7 separate regions of the Homo sapiens genome follow, and regions 1, 2, 3, 4, 5 and 7 are each reported to be linked to region 6. The links are microRNA targets in miRTarBase. Many come from high-throughput screens and were not tested one by one. Region 6 holds a microRNA gene; each other region holds the end of a gene's coding sequence.
What was found. Region 6 holds the annotated microRNA hsa-miR-532-5p (CAUGCCUUGAGUGUAGGACCGU, at 1,597-1,618, shown strand). A microRNA usually pairs through its seed, bases 2 to 8, with sites in the 3' UTR of a target mRNA and lowers its output. Matches are read on the target gene's strand: a 7mer-m8 pairs with bases 2 to 8, a 7mer-A1 pairs with bases 2 to 7 and ends in A, and an 8mer does both.

Region 1 (3,000 bases), not on the chromosome of region 6:
GATTATTGTGGGAATAAGTGTGAGAGAATCAGGATCTAGGCTAATCCAATGTATTAATGATAAACATTTAATATTTCACATAGTTTCTATCCGTGATGCCTTTAAACGTTATGGAAATCAAATCTAGTAGAAAAATACCCAGTGCCCCATCTCTCCAGGGGTAAGGTTACTTGGAACAGTTTCAAACACTGCAGCTCAAAATTTTGAAGTTTTTTTCCACTGCTGTTTTAGGGTGGGGTCTGGAGCTTATGAACAAGTTGTGATCAAACGCTAGAAGTCAAGTCGGTGAAAACATTTCCTTGTGGATTTAAGATGTGAGTAGTTGATGTATCAAGGCATTTTATTCAAGCACTTAATAGAAAATGAACCTCAACTATCAAGAGGAAAGCCAATGCTGGTTTCTTCTCTGGAAGGACCCACCGCCATCCTGTACCAGCCACCAAAGGGGAACATCTACATGGCAGTCTCCAGGCACTGTGCCACTGTGTGCCTTGGAAGCACCTGGCTTCTGTGGTCACTGCACATCATAATGAAAAGCCTGCTTTTTCTTTCAGAACACCCCAGCGGAGAAAACAGCATTATATACATCGGAGTATCATTTTAGGATTCAAGTGTAAAAATCTGTGATCAAGAGGCTCAATAGATTTGGGCTCTATGGTTTGGTTTTTTTAGTTTGAGAGACAGTACATGAATATAACTTAAACCCTATAGATTTTGTCAAGATAGTTGTAATTCCTGTTCTGGAAATCTTCCCTATTACACTACCTACAGCATTGTATAAAGTGTGGGTGTTCATGCTTTGGGAAAATGTTAGACTACAATTTAAACATGTGATGTGCTTATTCATAATTCTCAGTGTATCAGTCATAAATGAAATAACAAGTGCATTTAAGTCAGAGATACGTGAATGGATGTAATGCCGTTATGCAGTATATATTGTTAATTGTCATTAATATTAGATGAGCTGCAGAACCACCCCCAAGCACTACATAAAAGACTCAAAATAAGTTTAACACTTACTGTGTTGGGCACCCTAACAGAAGAGCTATCTTAACTCATTGAATATTAAGATCTGCTGGTTTCAGGAGTCAAAATGTAGAAAAAGAGGAGAATTGTAATATGGTCAGAAACAGAGAAGCCTTTTCTATGTAAATTCAGACTTATCTGAGGCTAACAGTTTTCCGAAGTGGTGGTGGGTAGCAGCATGACAGCTGCTTGCCATGACTGATGCAGACTACTAGGTTTCCATTTTAGCTCTCTGTAGGTACTGTTTTCTTCCCCACTGTGTCGAAAGTGATTTGTTTTGAAGCAAGAGTAGAATATAACATCTATCAAATATAGCTTTTAAAATAAGAATACCTGGTCTGGATCCAGTTGAGCAGCACAGCAGATAAACCTTAGAGTTTTTCTGTTCTTACATGACGGTTTCCATGTGGAAAGATCTAAACTTTCTTGGAATCACTATTAGTGAAGAAAAATGTAGAATCTGTATAACCAGTAATTCCCCAATTCTTACTTTCAAAGTCATATCCAAGAAAGACAATATGTCAGAATAGAATGACTTTGGTCTAGGTGTTTTCACGTTGGCAAAAATAAGGAGGAAATTATATTATTTTAATATCCAAATTTAAAGGTTTGGAAAATTTTGAATAGTTAATATTAGAACTTATGTTGCTGTTTTTTATATTTCAAGGATTGAGTATTCTGCATTAATCCAATACTATTCCAACAAAGAGATTCTGGAAGTTTTTAAAAAATGATACCCTGTTTTATATTTTGAATGTAGAGAGACTCTGAGAGAGAGAATGTTCTGAGTTATACTTTTTATTTTTTAAGATTTATTTTTAAGAATAAAACATTGACCTGAACATTTTAGCCTAACCAAGGGACTTAAGTGGTAAAGACTTGCATTATGTCTTCATGTGAACTGATCCGTTCATTATATATTATGGGAAAAATCAAAGAAAGTTTTTTATAGAGATATGAAGATATTATTTAGAGAGATATTTATTATGACATTTTTTAAAAACATATTTTTCTATTTTCAAAATATTATTTCTAGGCTATATTTTTATTGGTGCTGTGCAAATGATTTTGCAGTTTTGAAAATGATAAAACTAGATTGTAAGTGGGGTTCAGTGAGGACATTCATCAGACACGTAAGAGGTGCTGCAATCAGGGTGATGCCCATCTTACTCATCCTTGGCTGCCCTTGGTCCGACACCTCTCTATACAAGACTGGTTCTCAGTATTTTAAATGGTACAGAATTCTTTTTAAAAAGTAGAGAGATTTTGAAAAGCATAAAAATCATGCCTTTATAATCTTAGCAGCCATCAGATACACCTTGATTTATGTAGTAGTAAATATAACAAATATTTTAATAAATAGAAACACTGATAAGGAAGAAAAAAGAACTAATGTCTATGTCTTCTGTAGTCAGCAAAAGTCTGGATCCATTTTCTATTTTGTGTTCCATTGGCACACTTTGTGTTCAAATTTCAGTGCAGTCCTTTCAAAATACTCGCTAAGGGTTGCCTAAGTGTCTGCCTTACTTTCTGATTGTCCTTTTCTGAGAGCATGGTTAAGAACATCTTAACCATATAGCTGTTGAAAAAATCTGTTTATTAAATAACAAGTTCACTTCTGTTTATGTTTTGAGTTTAGAAAATTTGACTTGAAAATTTAGATTATTAATAAATTTATTTTTAAATATTAAAGTCAAATTTCAAATCACCCAGTGTTGAAGAATTTGCAGATGTATACAATACTTTTTCTAATTATGTCTTTTCTATCTCCATGCCTGGCTTTTTCTAATTATATCCTAGAGAAAAAGACTAATGGTATTTCAAAGCTGTGTATTTGTGACGAGATAAAGAAGAGTCTTAAACATCTTGTTTGGGAGAATGCACAGGCCAGTCAGGAGACCCACCTCCTCCTGTGCCCTGAGCTGCTGAGACCCGACAGATCATGAAGGCTAGTAAAGGGCAGAGAAGGCCCTG
Region 2 (3,000 bases), not on the chromosome of region 6:
TCCGGGGCACCCAGGACGGGAGCAAGCACTTTGTGAGGTCCCCCAAGGCCCAGGGCAAGAGTGTGGGTGTGGGCCACGTGGCCAGAGGGGCAAGAAACAAGCCCCCTCTGGGACCCGCCATCCCTGCGGTGTCCCCCTCCGCCCACCTGGCTGCCAGCCCGGCCCTCCTCCCCTCCCTAGCCCCCCTCGGGCACAAGAAGCACAAGCACCGAGCCAAGGAGAGCCAGCAGGGCTGCCGGGGCCTGCAGGCACCACTGGCCTCAGGTGGCCCTGTCCTGGGGCGGGAGCACCTGCGGGAGCTGCCCGCCTTGGTGGTGTATGAGAGCCAGGCCGGGCAGCCGGTCCAGAGACATGAGCACCACCACCACCATGAACATCACCACCATTACCACCACTTCTACCAGACATAGAGCCCCTCCCCAGGGCCCCACCCTGCCATATGAAGGACCCCACCCCCGACACCACAAGGCATTATTATTCTATTAATTATTGTTATTATGATGATTATTGTTATTAATAATTATTGTTACTCCACTAATATTTAGCTAGCCTACATGTAGAAGATCTATGGAAACACAGAACTAAACTTTTATTTATATGTTGTGGGGACTGCATAACTAGCCCAGGAAATGACTCTGGTTTTGAGTGGCCTGTAATGGGCAGAGGCTCCCTCGGGGCTCGGGATCTGCAGCATCTATGTGGATCAGCCCACACCCTTCCCAGAGCCAGGGAGCCCTTAGCCTCAACTCTGCCCCACCCCAGCCTCTTCCAGGAGAGCACCCTTACTTGGCCCGGCTTCCAGAGACCCTCGAAATCTCCGAGAAGATAAACAGCTGCTACCTCTTAGTATTATTCTGATTTTATTTTGCCCTTAACTGATTGTTATATGCTACAAGGGATTTCAGTGGACTGCAGAGTGCGAACGTCTTGCTGTTGTGTTTTTATGTCCCAACCTAGAAACCTTAGCTGTCTTTTCTGGAGTTGTCTTTCATGCTTTTCCAGTGGGATCAAGCCCTTTTCCCCAAGAGTCCCATCTCTTCTGCCATGCACGACATGAAAATCCACTTCTCTTCCTTCTCCTTCTTCTCTCTCTACTTTACAGTGATACACACACGTATTTAAGGACTATCCCTGAGACCATCCTTCTCATTTTGGAAACTGCTAGGGAGGGAACCAACCACTTAAACAAGCGTGGTTTTCCAAGATCCAGGCAATTGTGTGCTGTTGGTTGTGGTGGAGGATGTGGCACATATATACGTACCTACACGGTTCTCTAACAGAGCTTTCTGTATCTATAGATAGATGCCATCTGTCCATTTCTATGTATCTTTCTATAAATATACACTCTCAGGTATCTTTTCTGGTGTGTATAAATCAGTGGTTTGCTTCCCTGGATGCTTCTGGAACCCAGATGTGACCCTGCTTGTCTCCTTTTGGGGCTGGACGGCTCTCAGATGCTTTCATCAGAGGTCCATTCTCGGGTTTTGGGGTCTGATGGATTTTGGAGAGAACTGCTGGGGTACAGAAACTTGGTGGGAAAAGGGGACTGTGGCCAGAGTTGGGACCCTGGAGCAGCATCCTCTGCAGAGAAGGATTTTGTCTGGCCAGAGCCTGGAGAAACCTGAAAAAGAACCAGTCAGCTAGCCAGGGTCTCAGAGAAAAGCAGATTACACACTCAAATTGGGTAATTTGAGCAGAGCTTAATAAAGGCAGTATTTACAAAGTGTGGGCTAAGCCTCCCATGAGAGTGCAGAACCCTGGGGCTAGCAGTGTGGGGCGCTATTCCCACCCCTGGGCCTGAGTGGGGAAGGAGTTATCTTTAGCAGACAGAGGATTGCTGGAGGAGTGAGAGGGGCACCTGAAGGAGCTGTGACCTTTGCTTAAAGGATGCAGCCAGTCATGGGGACCCTCCAGGGAAATTAATATCCTGACCTGCTTTCCTGCCCCCCAGCCCCCTCAATCCATTGGCTGAGGCCGCTGGAAGCCACCGGGCCAAGGGAGCTTGTTGATGTGGGTCACACGGGCATGTTCCCAGGTCAGAGAGGAGAGTGGAGAGTGAATCTAGGGAGACTCAAGAGGGAGAAGTGACTCCAGCTACCTTCCTTTCTGCCGTTTTGTCTCCCAGCTGGCATTCTCTTTTCCAGAGCCTCGAGTTTGGGTTTAATGTAGTTAGTAAGGAGTTACTTCCAAAGGTAGTGGGCTTAGTTGTCACCGTATTCTTAATTTTATTAATGACTGATGTGCCTGGGATTGGATTAATACATTAATCCTTAGGACAGCCCCATGAGGCAGCTTGGTGGCAGCTCAGGAAGCATGTCTAAGGCTCAGAAGTTCATAACTCCCTTGAGGCCGCACAGAGGGCGGAGCTGGAATTCTGGTCTCCCACTCGATCCCTTCGCCACTGGTGCAGAGCTTAATCACGGCCATGGGCTGCCCTTGTTTTGGGTTGTGGGTTTCTGTTCAGTGAGAACGCAACTCAATCCAAAGTGAATGAAACCAAGTTGGAAGGCAGGGAGGGAACTGGCTTTGAGATGACAGGGTCCAGGATGTGAATGCAGCTGAGACTGGTTCTTGTCCCTCCCTCTTGTCCCTCGGATTGATAACTTGTACTCAACTACATGCTTTTGTCAGGGAACCCTGGCTGCTGGCCTTCTGGGTCCCCTAACCATAAGAAAAAGGACCTTCCGTTAGTGTAAAGCCCAAGGCAGGATTCTGCTTGGCTGGGCTTCGATCTGGTACCCATAGCTGGACCAATCATGACATCCCAGATGGGGTCACGTGGCCAACCTGCCGCAAGGGGGTGGGGTCTGTACCGGAAGACAGGAGGGGAGGGGTGCAGATCGGACAGGAAGTAATGGCATCCCAGGCCCCGAATTGCTGCAACCCTGGAGGCCAGCCCGGAGTTGAGACTACTGGTTTTAGAGCAGTTCCTCTGCCTCCCTAAGCTCCACACCTGTCAGGATTCTGTTACTTCTTGGTAACTGGGACTTGCCCAACTTT
Region 3 (3,114 bases), not on the chromosome of region 6:
ACAAGCCTTACGCAACATCAACGGATCCACACTGGTGAGAAACCATACACATGTAAGGAATGTGGGAAAAGCTTTACTCGAAACCCAGCCCTTCTTCGACATCAGAGAATGCACACTGGGGAGAAGCCTTACGAATGTAAGGACTGTGGGAAGGGCTTCATGTGGAACTCAGATCTTTCTCAGCACCAGAGGGTCCACACTGGGGACAAGCCTCATGAATGTACTGACTGTGGGAAAAGCTTCTTTTGCAAGGCACATCTTATTCGACATCAAAGAATCCATACTGGGGAAAGACCCTATAAATGTAATGACTGTGGGAAGGCCTTCAGTCAGAATTCTGTCTTAATTAAGCACCAGAGGCGCCATGCTAGAGACAAACCCTATAACTGTCAGATCTCTCACCTTCTTGAACATTAGAGAGTGCATAATGGTGATACTTGTTTATAATTCTTATGCTGCAGGAACCCTAGAGACAAAATGAGATGACCATTCACAATTTGCTGTAACCCTTAACTTAAATAGCCAGTATTATCTTGCCCTTTTGAACATTTACCATGTACTCTAGCAAGACTGGTCCCTCTGTTCTATGATGTTTTAACAAGGCATCATTTAGTTGGGCAGCTACTCTGTATCAGGTGCTAACCACTTTACATACATTAATTTGCATAACAATCCTATTAAGGTAGGTGCTCTTCTCCCCATTTTACAAATGAGAAATCTGAGTTGAAAGAGGTTATAAAACTCATTCAGGGTTGCTCAGTTAGTAAGTTATAGAGTTGAAATTGGAGCCAGGCCTATCTGACTGCAGAGTTTACTGTTCTTTACTTAATTGTACATATTTATGTCTCTGCCCATTTTTATTTGCTTATTTTCCTGTGCTTTTAGTTTCCCTTCATCACTCAGATCTAGCTCCTTCAACTAAGAAGATCTCTCTTCCTCTTCTACTTGTAATCAGTACCACCCAAGTTAGTATTTAATTATGTGCCATCTTATATTTTTCTAATAGTCTCATGTCTTTTAATCTTAACCCCAGCTAAATGACTCTGAGGACCAACAGTACATTTCTTTTATGTTTTTCAAATCCTGAAACATTAATCTTTGACTAGATATAACATGCTCATGATAAAAAAGAATTGAAATAGTTGAAAAGGGTGTTCAGTGAAAAGTAAATTTCCTTGTCATTCCTATCTCTTGAGTTCTCCCCAGAGGCAATCACTGCTACTGGTTGTGTATCTCTGTAGATACTCTTTGTATACAAGTGTTTATTAGTATTGCTTTTCATAATTCTGTCTCACTGAAAACCTTATTTGATGGAAGCAACATTGCAGTTAAATTGTGAACTCTAAGACCTTTTCTTCAGAAGTTGCTTTCCTTTTGAGGCCACCAAAGTAATTTAGGGAAACAGCAGAGGGTAATCCAGGTCTTTTTTTTTTTTTTTTTTTTTTTAGACAGAGTCTCACTCTGTTGCTCTGGCTGGAGTGCAGTGGTGCTATCTCAGCTCACTGCAAGCTCCACCTCCTGGGTTCATGCCATTCTTCTGCCTCAGCCTCCCAAGTAGCTGGGACTACAGGTGCCCGCCACCATGCCTGGCTAATATTTTTTATTTTTAGTAGAGACGGGGTTTCACCATGTTAGCCAGGCTGGTCTCGATCTCCTGACCTTGTGATCCACCTGTCTCGGCCTCCCAAAGTGCTGGGATTACAGGCCTCAGCTACCACGCCTGGCCAATCCAGGTCTTAAGAGACCTCATTGCCTTTGTTTTATGAGATATCATTCTGGGATTGGGAATATGTAAACTCAACTGGAGATTTTTTTTCATAAAAATTTATATAGTTCCAGCCCTCTCATTGCTTCCTATCCTAAATCCTCTTCCAGTCTGTCCATCCCTCACTACCATGATAGTCTACATTCTGATAAGCTGTGAGGCCACTGCCAAGGGAGGGAGAAATGGTCACTTTCTGGTGGTGGTTAATGCTTTGTTAGATAGCTTCATCCAGTCAATAGTTGAAAAGTTTTCACATAATCCAGTATTGGCATCAGAGCCAGAAATGCCCTCCCTAGGTCCAGGACCAAAGATAAAACAAACACGAGGAACATGTAGCGTCTACACAGGAAAGTAAAGAATTATAGAATTAACTAATTCTACTTGAAATCAGGAGTTTTATAAAACAACATTTTTAGACGTGGTCATCTTTTATTGGTTTCCATCATCTCTTCCCCTTCTCTCTGGGAACAGTTACCCGGGTATTCTTTGGGAAGCTATCCTTTCTCAGCTATGTGGTTTGGCACCACCACCATCTTCATGAGTGGACCCTGTTTGGCTTGTGTCAATCAGTTTATCCCATCCCCTTGGCCACAGAGCCATTGTGATATGAGGAGATACTGGCTCTTCTGGAAAAGAGAGGCTTTTCTTCATCGAGAGCTACCAGAGGAGATATTATCTGTCCTCTGTGTGGCACATAGGAAAATGTGAGACCTAGAATTATAGCAACTTTTTTTTTCTGTTAAAAGGGGAGATTCTCAAGCTTCCAGGTGCTACCATATGGAGCCTAAGGATAAAGCCAATACCAAAGAAAACAGTGACTAAACAGAGAGAAACTAGGTCCTTGGTGACATCTTTTGAGCCACTAGACCAAGCTTTACCTGAAGCAGAGCTACCTCAGAACTTTTCAGCTATGTGAGCCAATAAACATCTGTCAAACGAGTTAGAGTTGAGTTTTCTGTTATTTGCAACTTAGCCACACTAATACTGTTTTGTGTTTGAAATCACTGTTTTCTCATACAGCTCCTCAGTGTCACCTTTTCCTCTTGCTCAGTAGTCTCATAAGCTTCTCAGTTTTATCTCATCTCAGTTGCTTGGAAGTTGAGCATCTAAATAGGTGGCTTTTGCTGGGTGCAGTGGCTTACGCCTGTAATCCCATCACTTTGGGAGGCCAAGGTGGGCAGATCACCTGAGATTGGGAGTTCAAGACCAGCCTGACCAACATAGAGAGACCCCGTCTCTACTAAAAATACAAAATTAGCCAGGTGTGGTGGCACATGCCAGTAATCTCAGCTACTCAGGAGGCTGAGGCAGGAGAATTGCTTGAATCTGGGAGGTGGAGGTTGCAGTGA
Region 4 (3,114 bases), not on the chromosome of region 6:
CATGTAAGTTTCTCAAGCTTTAGAATATATATATATTAAAAAACAAAACAAAAAAAATGAAGCACAGACATGTTATTTTCCCAGAGCCATCAGTCCAAAGTATTTCACTGTATTATTAGAAGCAACAACTTCTAAACATTCAACTATTCCAAAAATAAGATTTTCCTCCAGTAAGTTATCATTCTCACTTGATAATAAGATAACTAAGATAACTTCCCAAATAAACTCATTCTTCATATCTTGCAAATCTAAAAAGCAACGTGCATCCCCTTTCCTGATGCCTACCCCTGCACTGTGCTGACGCTTCTTTCCTGTCTTGCAGCTGTGTGAGCCACACGCCAGCCCTGCGGCTCTGGATATCAGCCATGAAGTGGGACCCCACAGTCTGTGCTCTTCTCATGGATAAGAGCATTTTCCAGGGCTTCTTGAATCTCTATTTTCAGAACAACCCTAATGCCTTTGACTTTGGGCTGTGCTGAGTCTCACTGTCCACCCCTTCGCTGTCCAGAATTCCCCAGCTTGTTGGGAGTCTACGTCACGGCTTGTCTTGGGAACCAATCCGTCTCTCTTTCTTTTCTTTGAAGTTCCCAATAAAATGAAAACAGGAAATGTATTCTTCTGATAATCATTTGTCTGACTCCTCTAGCCTGTAGCTGCTGCTACTGCTGCTTTTTTTTCCTTTTTTTTTTTGAGGCAAGATCTTGCTTCGTTACTCAGGCTGGAGTGCAGTGGGACAGTCGGCTCACTGCAGCCTTGAACTCCTGGGCTCAGTTGATTCTCCCGCCTCAGCCTCCTGAGAAGCTAGGACTACAGGTATGTGTCACCACGCCCAGCTAATTTTTAAAAAAATGTTGTTGAGACAGGGTCTCACTATGTTGCTCAGGCTGGTCTCCATCTCCTGGCCGCAAGCCATCCACCCAACTTGGTCTCCAAAGTGTTGAGATTACAGGCATGAGCCACCTGGCCTGCCTAGCCTGTAGCTTCTAACTATTTTCTAGAAAGTGCCTGGTGCTAATGTCAGAGCACATTTTGGGAGCCTGTGTGCCTCCTAACTCCTTGGCCTTCAGCCTAGTTTGATCTCCAGATTATTGGTGCAGATGCTGATGCTGAGGTTCAGGGTCAACCTATGACTGATGCTTGTCACTACAGAATGGCACCCTCCAAAGACCTCCCTGGTGAAAGCTTAAGAAGAGGGAGAAGGAAGAAGAAAACACTCCAAACCTAAATACCTTCCATTTGGCAAATGAATGTCGCTGTCCACGTGGGCGAGTATGAGTGTAATTCTCCAAACTTTGGCCATGGGCCTGGAGACACCGAGGGTCTTGTGACTGGAAAGAATTCCAAAGCAGGAAATGAAACACCGGTTTATCACCCAGGACTAACTACGTCAGAATTTCACTGGTGCTGTCAGGGCTCAGGATGTCTCACAAAATGTTCTATAGCCGGCATCCTGCCTTAAAAAAATACACACGCCCCAAACCCAGCCACAAGCAAAGGTCATTCCGTTGGATTTGCGTCACACTCTCTTCCAATTCATCTCAACAAATGCCTCTGGTTGCCTGTTGTGTACCAAGCCCAGGGGCACACTGGGGATAAAGTTGAAAAAGACATTGGCTCTGTCCCTGGGAGCCCCCATCTCTCCACTTATCTTGGTTGAGGTTTTAAACCTAGCGCTTTGGAGCTGCTTGTCTGTTGTAGGGATGCTTGTCTCTGATGTGGCCCCTCTGCCAGCTTCGCCAGGCAGTACCACCCCACTGAAGACAGCAAAGAGCTGAGGATGGCTGGTGCCAACAGGTCCCTTGGGCTGGGAGCATCTACTGCCTGCACTATGGGAGGGGGACCAAGTTTGTCCAATGCTGTTTCATCTCAGTGTCTGAGGATCAGCCTGTGATCATTTCAGCTTTGCTCATGCTGGATCCTTTCCCATCCTCCTAGCTGTGCTGAGACACCAGGCAGCAACAGGAGCGATGTTTTGCCTTGTCTGTGCTCCCTAAGGAGCTGTCTGCCACCTCTGCCTCTGAGACAGCCCAAATCAGCCCTCCTCTCTCCCCACGTCTCAGTCTGGCCCTGCCATCTGCTGGCTCTGGGTATATTTTGACCCATGTAAATAGTTACCAGGTGTTACTCTGTGCCAGCTGGACAGAAACAAGCCTGCTTGGTGAGGTGGCCAGAACTTCCAGAAGAGGCAGCGCATGACAGGGGCAGTCTGCCGCACCATCTGCTCCGGATGTGGAGCCCTGTTGCCATGGCACCCTAGTTAATGCTGAGTGAGGTCTGTGAATCACCGTTTTCCTGGGATCTTTGCTCCAAGAAGAGGGGAATCTTCTCCTGTGGCCTCTCATAGGACTTAGGAGATTGATCAGCCTTTTGCCGGTACAAATCCTGCATGCTAGTGAGTGCTTGTCATAAGACCAAAGTTACCACTGATGCAACAGGAAATGGCATGCCTCTGGCTCACCAAAATGAAGGTGTTCTCTTTTGGGGCTCCGCACACTAATTTAGAAAGCTTGAAGAACCAGGAATTATAGAATGGAGAAAAGCACTCATGGGGGAGGTTTGCAGCCTGGTGGCCTATAGCCCAGTTTGGGATTTGAGTGCCTCTTGGCCAGGCATGCTCCCTGCTGTTTACCAGGGTCCTGGTCACCTGCACATCCTTACACTTCCTCCATCTCGCTTCTTTGTCACTTGTCTGACCCACAGAGAAAACTGAGTTATCAATCTTTGAATAAAACTAGAAGGATGTGGCCTGGAGAAAAGAGGGAAGGAGGTAATTAAATAATGCTCCATGAAGAACTTTAAAAATATGCTTCTTAATTAATACATGTGGAAAGAATACATATGGGTTAAAAATACAATAATGTAAAAGAATAGAAAATCTTCCATTATCTTGTGTCCTAGAGATAACCACTTTTAGTAATTGGTGTCTACCTTTTTTTCCCCTTTTCTTTTAAATAATAGAGATGGGGTTTCGCTATGTTGACCAGGCTGGTCTTGAACTCCTGGCTTCAAGTGATCCTCCCATCTCGGCATCCCAAAGTGCTGGGATTATAGGTCTGAGTCATCATGCCTGGTGGGTGTCTATCTTATAAAAAGCACTAAACTTAAAGATTTAAA
Region 5 (3,114 bases), not on the chromosome of region 6:
TGACCTCCTCCACCCCACTCCCAAGACTTCCCCTCGCATTTCACTGGCTTGCGTGAACTGCAAGCCTTGTCCATTCCTCAACCAATCCCTGGCAAGGGAATGGGAAACAATCTCTTCCCACTCCACGAGGTCACTCTCCTGTGGCTCTTTGCCTGAACACACCAGGGACGTTTGCTCCTGCTGGTGCCTCCACGTGGGAAGGCCCTTCCTGATTCTTCCATCTGGAAGAGTCATCTTTCAAAGCTGCCTCCAAAGGCAGTCTTCTACCTGCAGGCTGGGTCAGGGTCTCCTCTGGGTTCTCACAGCCTTCCAGGACCCCTACTGGATGTGGCCTGTTTCTGTGGCTCAGAAATGGGACCTCTTCCCAGCCCCATGCAACCATAATCAGCACAGCCAGCCATGGTGAGGACTCCCAGCCCGCTGGACCTGTGCCTGGCAGCCACAACCCTGCCCTCACCCCTGCCCAGGGCTGGGCATGACCTCTGGGAAAAGCCTCAGGAGAGGACTGGGACTGAAAGAAAAACACCCATTTGATGGAGAAGCAAACTGAGGCTCAGTGAGGGGTGTGACTTGCCCAAGGTCATGGTCAGGGCTAGTCTTAGCCCCAGGCCTCTCTCTCAGGCCTGGGCCCTGGGCCCTACTCCAGGGCTCCTCAGACTTTGAAGGTCACGTGAATCACTGGGGCACCCTGTTAAAATGCAGACGCTGGTTCAGTAGGTTGGGGTGGGACTGGACTTGCTATTTCCCACATGCTTCCGCTGCCACTAGCCTGCAAGCCACACTGGGGGCGTCACAGTCTGTACTAAGGGAGACCTTGGATTTTCAGCCCCACCCTCAGAAGCCTAGAGGCCGCTGCTTTAGGAAGGGTGGGGTGTGGGTAGGGTGTGAGTGGGGAAGCCACTTCAAGAAACCCCAATCTCCATTCCTGTTCTGCCAGCCATCTAGGACACCAGAGCTGCTGGAACGTTTTATTAAGTTAAGAGGTTCAGGGAGCAGAAGAGAAACACCTTTTGGGTGGCTCTGGCGGTTCTGCACCCAGCACAGCCTCGAAGGAGGCTGTGGGGCCATGGAGGCCAGCTGCTAGCTCCCTCTGTCCTGAGCCCCATGGTACGGGTCCAAATGGGGCAGGAAGTGTTAGTAGGAGGTAGGGCAGGAAGAGGGTGGCAGGCTCCCGCCTCTCCCCTGTAGAGACACCCCGCCATGGCTGCTGCCTGGGCCTCCGCCAGACCTCTGGGCCAGGGCCACCAGCTCAGAAGCCCAAGCAGAGGGTGGCTGGAGACAGAGGGGGACCAGGGTTGGAGGCACACAGCCACCAGGAATTGCTTTTTTTTTTTTTTTTTAAAGTATAAAGTGTTTTGGAAAAAAAGGAAAAAAATCTATATAAAAATCTCTTCACATATAAAATCCTGAAGAAGGTGCAAGGTGAGACCCAGTGCGAGGGGCGCGCTCAGATATGCAGTGTGTGTGTGTGTGTGTGTATCCGTGTGTACATGTGTGCACGTGTGTGCGTATGTGTCTGTGTGTCTGTGTGTGTGTGTGTGTGTGTGTGTGTGTGTGTGGTGGGTGCAAGTGCACGTGTGGCCCACAGAGGGTGGGGAGAAAGCTTGGCTTTTTACTTCCATCCAGGAGGGAAGGAGGGCGGCTGGTCCTCCAGCCTGGAGGGTCTGCAGCTGGGCGGGACCTGAAAGACAAGGTGCGGCAGGGCTGAGGCCTGGGCTGAGGGGCTGCGAGGCCACCCCAAGGCCAAGCAAGGGTGCTGAGTGGGTCCTTCCACCACCTCTCAGCCCCTAAGGTACAGCCAGATCCGCTCTTCCTGGCTCCTTCCCAAGCAGCTCAGCCATAGGGTGGCCTCTCCTGCATGCCATAGGAAGTCCATGAGGACTTATCAGAAAGAGGATGCTCCAGGTAGATGTGGCGTTGAAAAAGCAAAAATAAGAACACTTTGGCCAGGTGCAGCGGCTCACACCTGTAATCTCAGAATTTTGGGAGGCTGAGGCAGGTGTATTGCTTGAGCCCAGGAGTTCGAGACCAGCCTGGGAAATCACGGCGAAACCCCACCTATACAAAAAGTGCAAAAATTATCTGGGCATGGTGGTGAGGGCCTGTGGTCCCAGCTACTCAGAAGGCTGAGGTGGGAGGATCCCTTGAGCCTAGGAGGTTGAGGCTGCAGTGAGCCGTGATTGCACCACTGCACTCCAGCCTGGGTGTCAGAGTAAGACCTTTCTCAAAGCAACCAAAACCAACCAACCAACCAACCAACCAACCAACCAACCAACCAACCAACCACTTTGAGCCCTGCTAAGTCAAGAAGGAGTGTTAAGACTAACTGGGATAGAAGCCCGGCCTCAGCGTGCGATGTGTGTGTGTGAAGCTCAGTGGAGATTCACTGTGGGGGTCAGGGATGTGCACGCTGCATTTGCCTCCAGCCCCAAGAAGGGGGGTGCACTGAGTAGGCTGTGGCTCTGCACTGTGCCGCCCAGCTCTGGAGGAACAGGCTTAAGCTGATGAAGCAGCCTGTGGCCCGGGTCTGATGGGATCTCTGCAACAACCCCGTGTTGCTGGTTTCATTGTCCTTTTTACAGAACGGGAATTGGAGGCCAGAAGAAGGAAGTGGCCTGGCTGGGGTGGTCCAGGGAGTCCCGGGTGTGGGAGAGCCTCAGCCCCTGCCCACCCTGCAGGGCACACGCCTCGGCATCCACCTCTACTCAGCCAGGCTGTTGCGCATCGACTCCTTCTCCTGGAGGGCGGCCATGGCAAGACGCAGGTGCTCCTTCAGCTGCTCGATCTCCCGCTCAGACCGTGTCTTGATGTGGCTCAGCTCCACATAGACGTCCTGGTACTTTCCCGAGGTGAAGCGCTTGTCCTGGGGGGCAGGAGGCAGGTATGAGGGCATGAAGTCTCTCCCTCCAGCCCTGCCAACCGGGCACATGGGCAGCACCAGCAGCCAGACCTCCCCGCAGATACCTCGCTTCATCCCTCCAGGTGGCTCCCCAAGATGGCCGTGGGTTCTGGGCTTACCCCTCCCACCTCCCTGGTACCACCCAGGGACACAGGCGTCATTGTCATCCTCATCCTGTTTCGGGGGAGAAGATTTTGACCAAGACCGCAGGGCAG
Region 6 (3,114 bases):
TTGTCATTTACATTAGGTATATCTCCTAATGCTATCCCTCCCCCCTCCCCCCACCCCATGACAGGCCCCGATGTGTGATGTTCCCCTTCCTGTGTCCAAGTGTTCTCATTGTTCAATTCCCACCTATGAGTGAGAACATGTGGTGTTTGGTTTTCTGTCCTTGGATCCCTTCCTTACACCTTATACAAAAATTAATTCAAGATGGATTAAAGACTTAAATGTTAGTCCCATTTACTCTTGAAAACCCTCCATGTAAAACTGTAACCTGCAGCACTTAAATGACCCTGGTCAAGGTCCCCAGTGTCCTTCACATTTCCCAATTTACTGGGCAATGTTGTCATCTTACTTGACAGATCAACACACAGTTGATCACTCCCTCTGCCTTGAGACTCTACCTGCTTTCCAGGATTCCACACTCATGAGGTTGTCTTCTTACCTCACAAGCCTCTCTTTCTCAGTCTCTTGATGGTTTCTCCTCCTCTTCCTGAATTCTAAGTATTAAAGAGATATAGGGCTTAGTCTTCAGACTTCTTTTTTTTTTTTTAACTTCTCATTAGTCCTCAGCTGTTCTCATCTTGTCTTGCAACTCTAAGTACCATTTTATGTGGATGATTTCTGTGTTTGTATTTCCAGCCTGGACTTCTCTCCTGAATTCCAGATGCCTATGTCCAACTATGTACTGGACATCTGCCCCGAATGTCTAATAAGTATCTCAAAACTTTAACACATCCAAAGCTGAGGTCCTGGTTTTCCTCCCCCTCTCAAAAAGCCCTACTCCTCCCTCTGTGTTCTCCAACTCAGCAAACAGCATTTCCCAATTGCATATGCCAAGGATATGGAGAATTTTAATAAGCTAAAGGTTTTGGATTCATCTTTGACACTTTTTCCCCTCCATTCTCCAAATACAAACTGCTGTCAAATCTTGTTGGCTCTACTTTCAAAATACATGTCTAATCTGACCACACAGCCACTTCTCATACTTCTCACTTCCTCTATTATTTCCACACTAATCCAGCTTTTCCCTGGGCTGACAAGTGCAAGTTCTCTTGCGTCTGTCTGTCTGTCTGTCTCTCTGTCTCTGTCTCTGTCTCTGTCTCTCTCTCTCTCTCTCTGTGTGTGTGTGTGTGTGTGTGTGTGTGTGTGTGTGGTGTGTGTGTGGACACAAAGTGGTTGGTGGCTGAGAGCTTGAGCCTCCTTTTTTGAGTCCTCTTTCTAATGACCTGCATGCCAGATTCTAAGCTTTCTTACCATCTGTTCTCGTATGTGTGTTATTTCATCTGTAAAATAGGGATAATGATCACCTCATGGATATTTTATGAGAATAAATGAGCTATGTGTGAAAAGCACTTAAAACAGTGCTCTGCAAATGTAAATACTATACTGGTGTTAGGAATAAAAATAAAGGAAAAGAAAGAAGGAAGGAAAACAAATATGTTGTAGATAGTGAACATTTCTGAAGGTACATATGTGAATGTACACAAGCACACCTTCTCATTACAGCATGTCTGGGGCACAGTCATAGAAGTCCAAGGCATCTGGGATACGCATGCACACAGTATACAGGAGAGCAGACCTCCCGACTTGCTTTCTCTCCTCCATGCCTTGAGTGTAGGACCGTTGGCATCTTAATTACCCTCCCACACCCAAGGCTTGCAGAAGAGCGAGCCTTCTCTTCCCTCTCCAGTGCATAGGCATGAGCACATGGACAGGTACACCAAAGGGAGGTAGACCCTCTCTTACGTGCTCTGTATGTGGGGTACACTGTTAGCAGCCATCCCATCTGGATGACTGTCCTGCTTCCATGGCCACTGCTCCTAGTTTACCCATCAGCACTCCTGTGGCTATCTTGCTGCCCACTTGCACCCCCCAGGCCAGTGCCTCTTGCCTCCTAGAGCATACCCATATGTCGTGCCAAGAGAGCAAGCCCTTCCCTGCTCCCTCTCTCACATCCCTTGCATGGTGGAGGGTGAGCTTTCTGAAAACCCCTCCCACATGCAGGGTTTGCAGGATGGCGAGCCTCAGCTTTCCTTGCTCTCTTGTGCATGTGTATATACACATACGCACTCCTTCACCAAAAGAAAAACACACACCCATGTGGTGGGAAGGAGAATGACTCTCAGCCATGTCCTTTCTCCCATCTCAGTCTTACATGGATCCTGCAGGAGAGGGAGACTTCTCTTAGCTTTCTCTTGCACATGGTGCAGCCCCTCATACTCAGGGATAGGCACAGCCTAGAGAAGGAAGGGGGGTCTTTTGACCTGGTTCTGTCTTAGCGGCACCTAGAGGAGGAGAGAGAACCTTCTCAGGACTCCTGTACATGGGGCATGATGAAAAGGGAGTCTTCTAGCTAATTCTCACAAACCCAGTTTGTGAGGAAAATTGTGTCTATATCATAACCATATGCAAAGATGTAATATGCACACACATTTTGGGTTCAGAAAGTAGAATCCACTCACTGTGCCATGCCTTTCCATATGCACACTTGTTTGCTCAAGAGGGTGTGTGAAGATCTGTCTTCTTAGACACTCATGTAGATATGAGTCAGATTGTGAGTTTTCTCTGTTATCTCCCCAGACCCAGGATTTGCAGCCGATTCATTTGGTGAGCCACTCATTCATTCAGCAAATATTTATCGAGCAGCTACTGTGTGTTGGGTACTCCCCTATGCACCAGGGATACACCAGTGACCAAAAGACAAGAATCCCTGCCCTAGTGAGGGGAGGCAGGTAGTGAACAAAATAAGTAAGTAATAGATAGTGTGCCAATTGTTGATAAGTGCTCTGGAGAATAATAAGGCAGGAAAAGGGGACAAGGAGTGGGTGGGGGTAGTTACAGCATAGATGGTGGTGGAGAAGTTTCGATATCAAATAGGGTAGTCAGGAAAGGCCTACTGTGTTCTAGGAACAACAAAGAGCCATTGTGGCAGAAGCATAGGGCTGGGAAGTAGTAAGTTACAATGGAAAAAGGGAAAGCTGATAATTACTATGTATCTCTAAAATCTAAGGCCGCTTTTAAAAAAAAAATCATACCATTATCACACTTAAAAATAATTACCATCCAGGCACAGGGGCTCATGCCTGTAATCTCAGCACTTTGTGGGAGGCTAAGGTAGGC
Region 7 (3,114 bases), not on the chromosome of region 6:
CCTGGCATATGAGGCAAACAAGGAGAAGGTGATGGGTTTGGTCTCCTTCAACCACTTTCTCTCTTCAGACACTATCAAGGATCTCCTCCCAAATGTATGCGCTTTTCCTATGGAAAAGGGCCCTTGTCAAACCTACATGACGCGATGGTTTTTCAACTTTGAAACTGGTGAATGTGAGTTATTTGCTTACGGAGGCTGCGGAGGCAACAGCAACAACTTTTTGAGGAAAGAAAAATGTGAGAAATTCTGCAAGTTCACCTGATTTTCTAACAAGAACACAGCCCTCCATGGATTCGGGATTGCTCTGAGGGCCATAGAAGGCATTTGCGTGTGTGTGTGTGTGTGTGTGTGAACAAGAGGTTCATTCCTCTACCCCCACATTTATTCTCCCTGATGTGCTCCTACAAGTGCTTCATCTCTGTGCCTGAAATTCTATAAATGTTGCAATCATGTTTACAATCTCAAGACCTCCTTTTTAAAACATACACGTACTTACAAATACACTGGGGAAATTTAGAGCAACCATTCACACCTTAGTATGAATTACTGCTTAACCCACTGGGAGATAAAGGTTTTGAAGGACAGAGAGGGTGGATTTGGAAATTCGGGTACAACATTGGAAGGGCCTACATTGGACAAGGAGGGGATTTCTGGTCTTGTGAAATAAGAAACAAGGAAACAACAGAAACCAGGGAAGAAAGGGGAGCTGGGGAGAAACTGAAGATGTTAAGGACACTTTTAATTAAAAAAAAAAAAAAAAAAAAAAGTAGTGGGCTGGGCGTGGTGGCTCACACCTGTAATCCCAGAACTTTGAGAGGCTGAGTAAGGCAGGTGGATCATGAGGTCAAGAGATCGAGACCATCCTGGCCAACATGGTGAAACCACGTCTCTACTAAAAACACAAGAATTAGCTGGGTGTGGTGGCGCATGCTACTACACTACATAGTTCCAGCTACTCGGGAGGCTGAGGCAGGAGAATCGCTTGAACCCAGGAGGCAGAGGTTGCAGTAAGCCGAGACCGTGCCATTGCACTCCAGCCTGGTGACAGAGTGAGACTTGGTCTCAAAAAAAAAAAAAAAAAGTGAATTTTTATGAAAGCTGTTATCTACTAAGGCTCAACCACATCTTCCTACCAAGGGCTACATGGGGAGAGGAGTGAAGAGCCCTGGTCCTAGAGTCTTTTGGTTTGCCTTAAGCAACACCAATTACAACAACTTGGAGAGAGAGGAGAAAAACACAGGAATCATTTCTTTCATTTATTTCAAGAGGGCCCATAGATGCGGAGGGACTTCTTTAAGATCACAGGTTGGGAACAAAACAGAGGCATCCTTGGTCCCACCAAAAGGCCTTTTCCATTGCATTGTAAACCCCCCAATCCATAATTTTTCCAGACTTCCTCTGGGATGGAGGGCAGAATTGAAGAGGGGGCATTCATGTGGGCACTGTCCCTTACTTACCACTCTGATTCAGAGTCCTCCCCCAAAGTCCAAGTCAGCTGCTTCCCATTGCCCGAGGAACAATAACTCCAAACCATTATGCCAGGCTCCATGCTAAGCTCTTCATAAATAATACACATTAACCTCAGGGTAACCCTAAAAATCAGATTACTACTCAAGGCATGCTCCAGGAACAGGCAGCTTCCAGGTCACCTGAGAACTTGTTAGAAATGCAGAATCTCATGACCAGCCTTGTAACAAGATTCCTAGGTGATTTGTGGGCACACTCAAGTTTAGGAAGCAGTGGTAGATGAGGAACCAAGGATAAAACAGAGCAGTAATGTTTCCAGGGCCACACAGCTGGAAAGTGGCAGAGCTGGTCATTGAGCTCATGTCAGTATATTTGCAAAGTCCCTGGTTATAATGGCTATGCTTCACTCTGTCATGGATCTCAGGATTTCCCCCATGGGGCTGATTTCCAGTTAAAGGTTGTATCAGAAAAATTTTAAAACACCAAGTTATGCTGGCAAGGCAACAAACACATCTCCCTTTTGTGGAGAACACCGGGAAGCAGGATTCCTGGATCATCTCTGGGAAGAACCTGAGACAAAATCCTAAATGTCTCCCATGGCCGCTGTCTTCTTTTTCCAGGTTGGAGAGCAGCAGTCACACCAACCTACTGAGGACTTCCACAAAAGAGAGATTGCCTCATTCCTAGCCCCTGGCTCCATACCACCCACCCTCACTCTCTCTTCCCTTCTCAACATTTCACAAGAGGGAGCATTCTCCATGGCTAACACCAATCAGATATTCTGTCTTACCAAAATGTCCTAGAAATTCCTGAATTGCTCAACACCTAAATCATGGCTAACACCAATCAGATATTCTGTCTTACCAAAATGTCCTAGAAATTCCTGAATTGCTCAACACCTAAATCACTGGCTTTAAGCTCTGTCTCCTACTCATGAAACACCAGAACTATCTGGCCTTGAGATTCAGAAAATGTGATCATTGTCTCTATAATTCAATTGTATCTGCATTAACCACCCAATCTTGTCATAGAATCCGAAATTCAGGCTCTTGTACCGAACGTACAGCTGATGCCAACACTGACACACAAGTGCTTGGAAATAGAGAAAGGTTTATTTAATTTGGTCAAGGCAAGATCTCTCCGATTTACCTTAAGAAAAAGAAGCAGAGAGTTATGTGGCTGCAGAGTAAGAGAGGGGGAGTTTCAGGAAACCAAGGGAAAAGTCTGTGTTTCTTCACTCTCAGATAACACCTGAAACAACCAGACTTCTAGGAGTCAGCAGCTTGTCACAACATCCTTAAAGACATTTATTTCTTCTTGGATACTTTTTTTGTGACCCTGAAGTTAACTCCCACTGCTTGACAGAGAAACAGTACATCAGCAGTTTATCATTATGTTGTGGGAACAAGGAATATTGGGCAAAAAGCAAGTTCAAGCAAACAAGGGCCTGATCAGAATTTTCATTATTTCAGTCACTAAAAATGCTTGGATGCTGAGATCTCAAGGGGCCCTGTTACAAATCCCCACTGCCTTTTTCCATTCCTCATTCATGTAGGAAAAGGGGTGTCATTCTTTTCTAGCTACTTCCTGCTGAAAAAGGGGCAAAGGTGTGGAAACTGAAGAGCAGAATCTATCCATTTGAAGTTG

Region 1: miRTarBase lists EEIG2 as a target of hsa-miR-532-5p. Seed matches in the 3' UTR shown: 7mer-m8 at 333-339.
Region 2: miRTarBase lists NKD1 as a target of hsa-miR-532-5p. Seed matches in the 3' UTR shown: 7mer-m8 at 466-472.
Region 3: miRTarBase lists ZNF662 as a target of hsa-miR-532-5p. Seed matches in the 3' UTR shown: 7mer-m8 at 600-606.
Region 4: the mRNA of GSTO2 is a reported target of hsa-miR-532-5p. The part of its 3' UTR that is shown has no 7-base or 8-base seed match.
Region 5: miRTarBase lists TRIOBP as a target of hsa-miR-532-5p. The part of its 3' UTR that is shown has no 7-base or 8-base seed match.
Region 7: the mRNA of SPINT3 is a reported target of hsa-miR-532-5p. Seed matches in the 3' UTR shown: 7mer-m8 at 318-324.

What each region holds. Positions count from the first base shown.
Region 1 is chr1:108,634,877-108,637,876 of GRCh38, forward strand. It overlaps EEIG2 (EEIG family member 2), which reads left to right. Exons shown (of 11, transcript NM_001010883.3): 11 at 232-3,000. The coding sequence ends at 274. Among named protein-coding and RNA genes, the nearest start is that of HENMT1, 25 kb to the right of the region's middle.
Region 2 is chr16:50,633,372-50,636,371 of GRCh38, forward strand. It overlaps NKD1 (NKD inhibitor of Wnt signaling pathway 1), which reads left to right. Exons shown (of 10, transcript NM_033119.5): 10 at 1-3,000. The coding sequence ends at 410. Among named protein-coding and RNA genes, the nearest start is that of NKD1-AS1, 21 kb to the left of the region's middle.
Region 3 is chr3:42,914,938-42,918,051 of GRCh38, forward strand. ZNF662 (zinc finger protein 662) reads left to right here. Exons shown (of 5, transcript NM_207404.4): 5 at 1-3,114. The coding sequence ends at 417. Among named protein-coding and RNA genes, the nearest start is that of ZNF662, 10 kb to the left of the region's middle.
Region 4 is chr10:104,298,806-104,301,919 of GRCh38, forward strand. GSTO2 (glutathione S-transferase omega 2) reads left to right here. Exons shown (of 7, transcript NM_183239.2): 7 at 323-3,114. The coding sequence ends at 479. Among named protein-coding and RNA genes, the nearest start is that of ITPRIP-AS1, 23 kb to the right of the region's middle. RefSeq lists enhancers at 428-1,627, 1,444-1,945, 1,946-2,445.
Region 5 is chr22:37,772,350-37,775,463 of GRCh38, reverse strand. It overlaps TRIOBP (TRIO and F-actin binding protein), which reads right to left. Exons shown (of 24, transcript NM_001039141.3): 23 at 2,700-2,863; 24 at 1-1,681. The coding sequence ends at 2,702. Among named protein-coding and RNA genes, the nearest start is that of H1-0, 31 kb to the left of the region's middle.
Region 6 is chrX:50,001,571-50,004,684 of GRCh38, forward strand. It overlaps MIR532 (microRNA 532), which reads left to right and starts at 1,578; the gene lies at 1,578-1,668. The region is part of intron 3 of CLCN5 (chloride voltage-gated channel 5); the gene reads left to right. It overlaps MIR188 (microRNA 188), which reads left to right and starts at 1,933; the gene lies at 1,933-2,018.
Region 7 is chr20:45,509,799-45,512,912 of GRCh38, reverse strand. SPINT3 (serine peptidase inhibitor, Kunitz type 3) reads left to right here. Exons shown (of 2, transcript NM_006652.2): 2 at 69-452. The coding sequence ends at 262. All of the region lies in intron 1 of LOC107987282 (a long non-coding RNA gene), which reads right to left. Among named protein-coding and RNA genes, the nearest start is that of SPINT3, 4.3 kb to the left of the region's middle.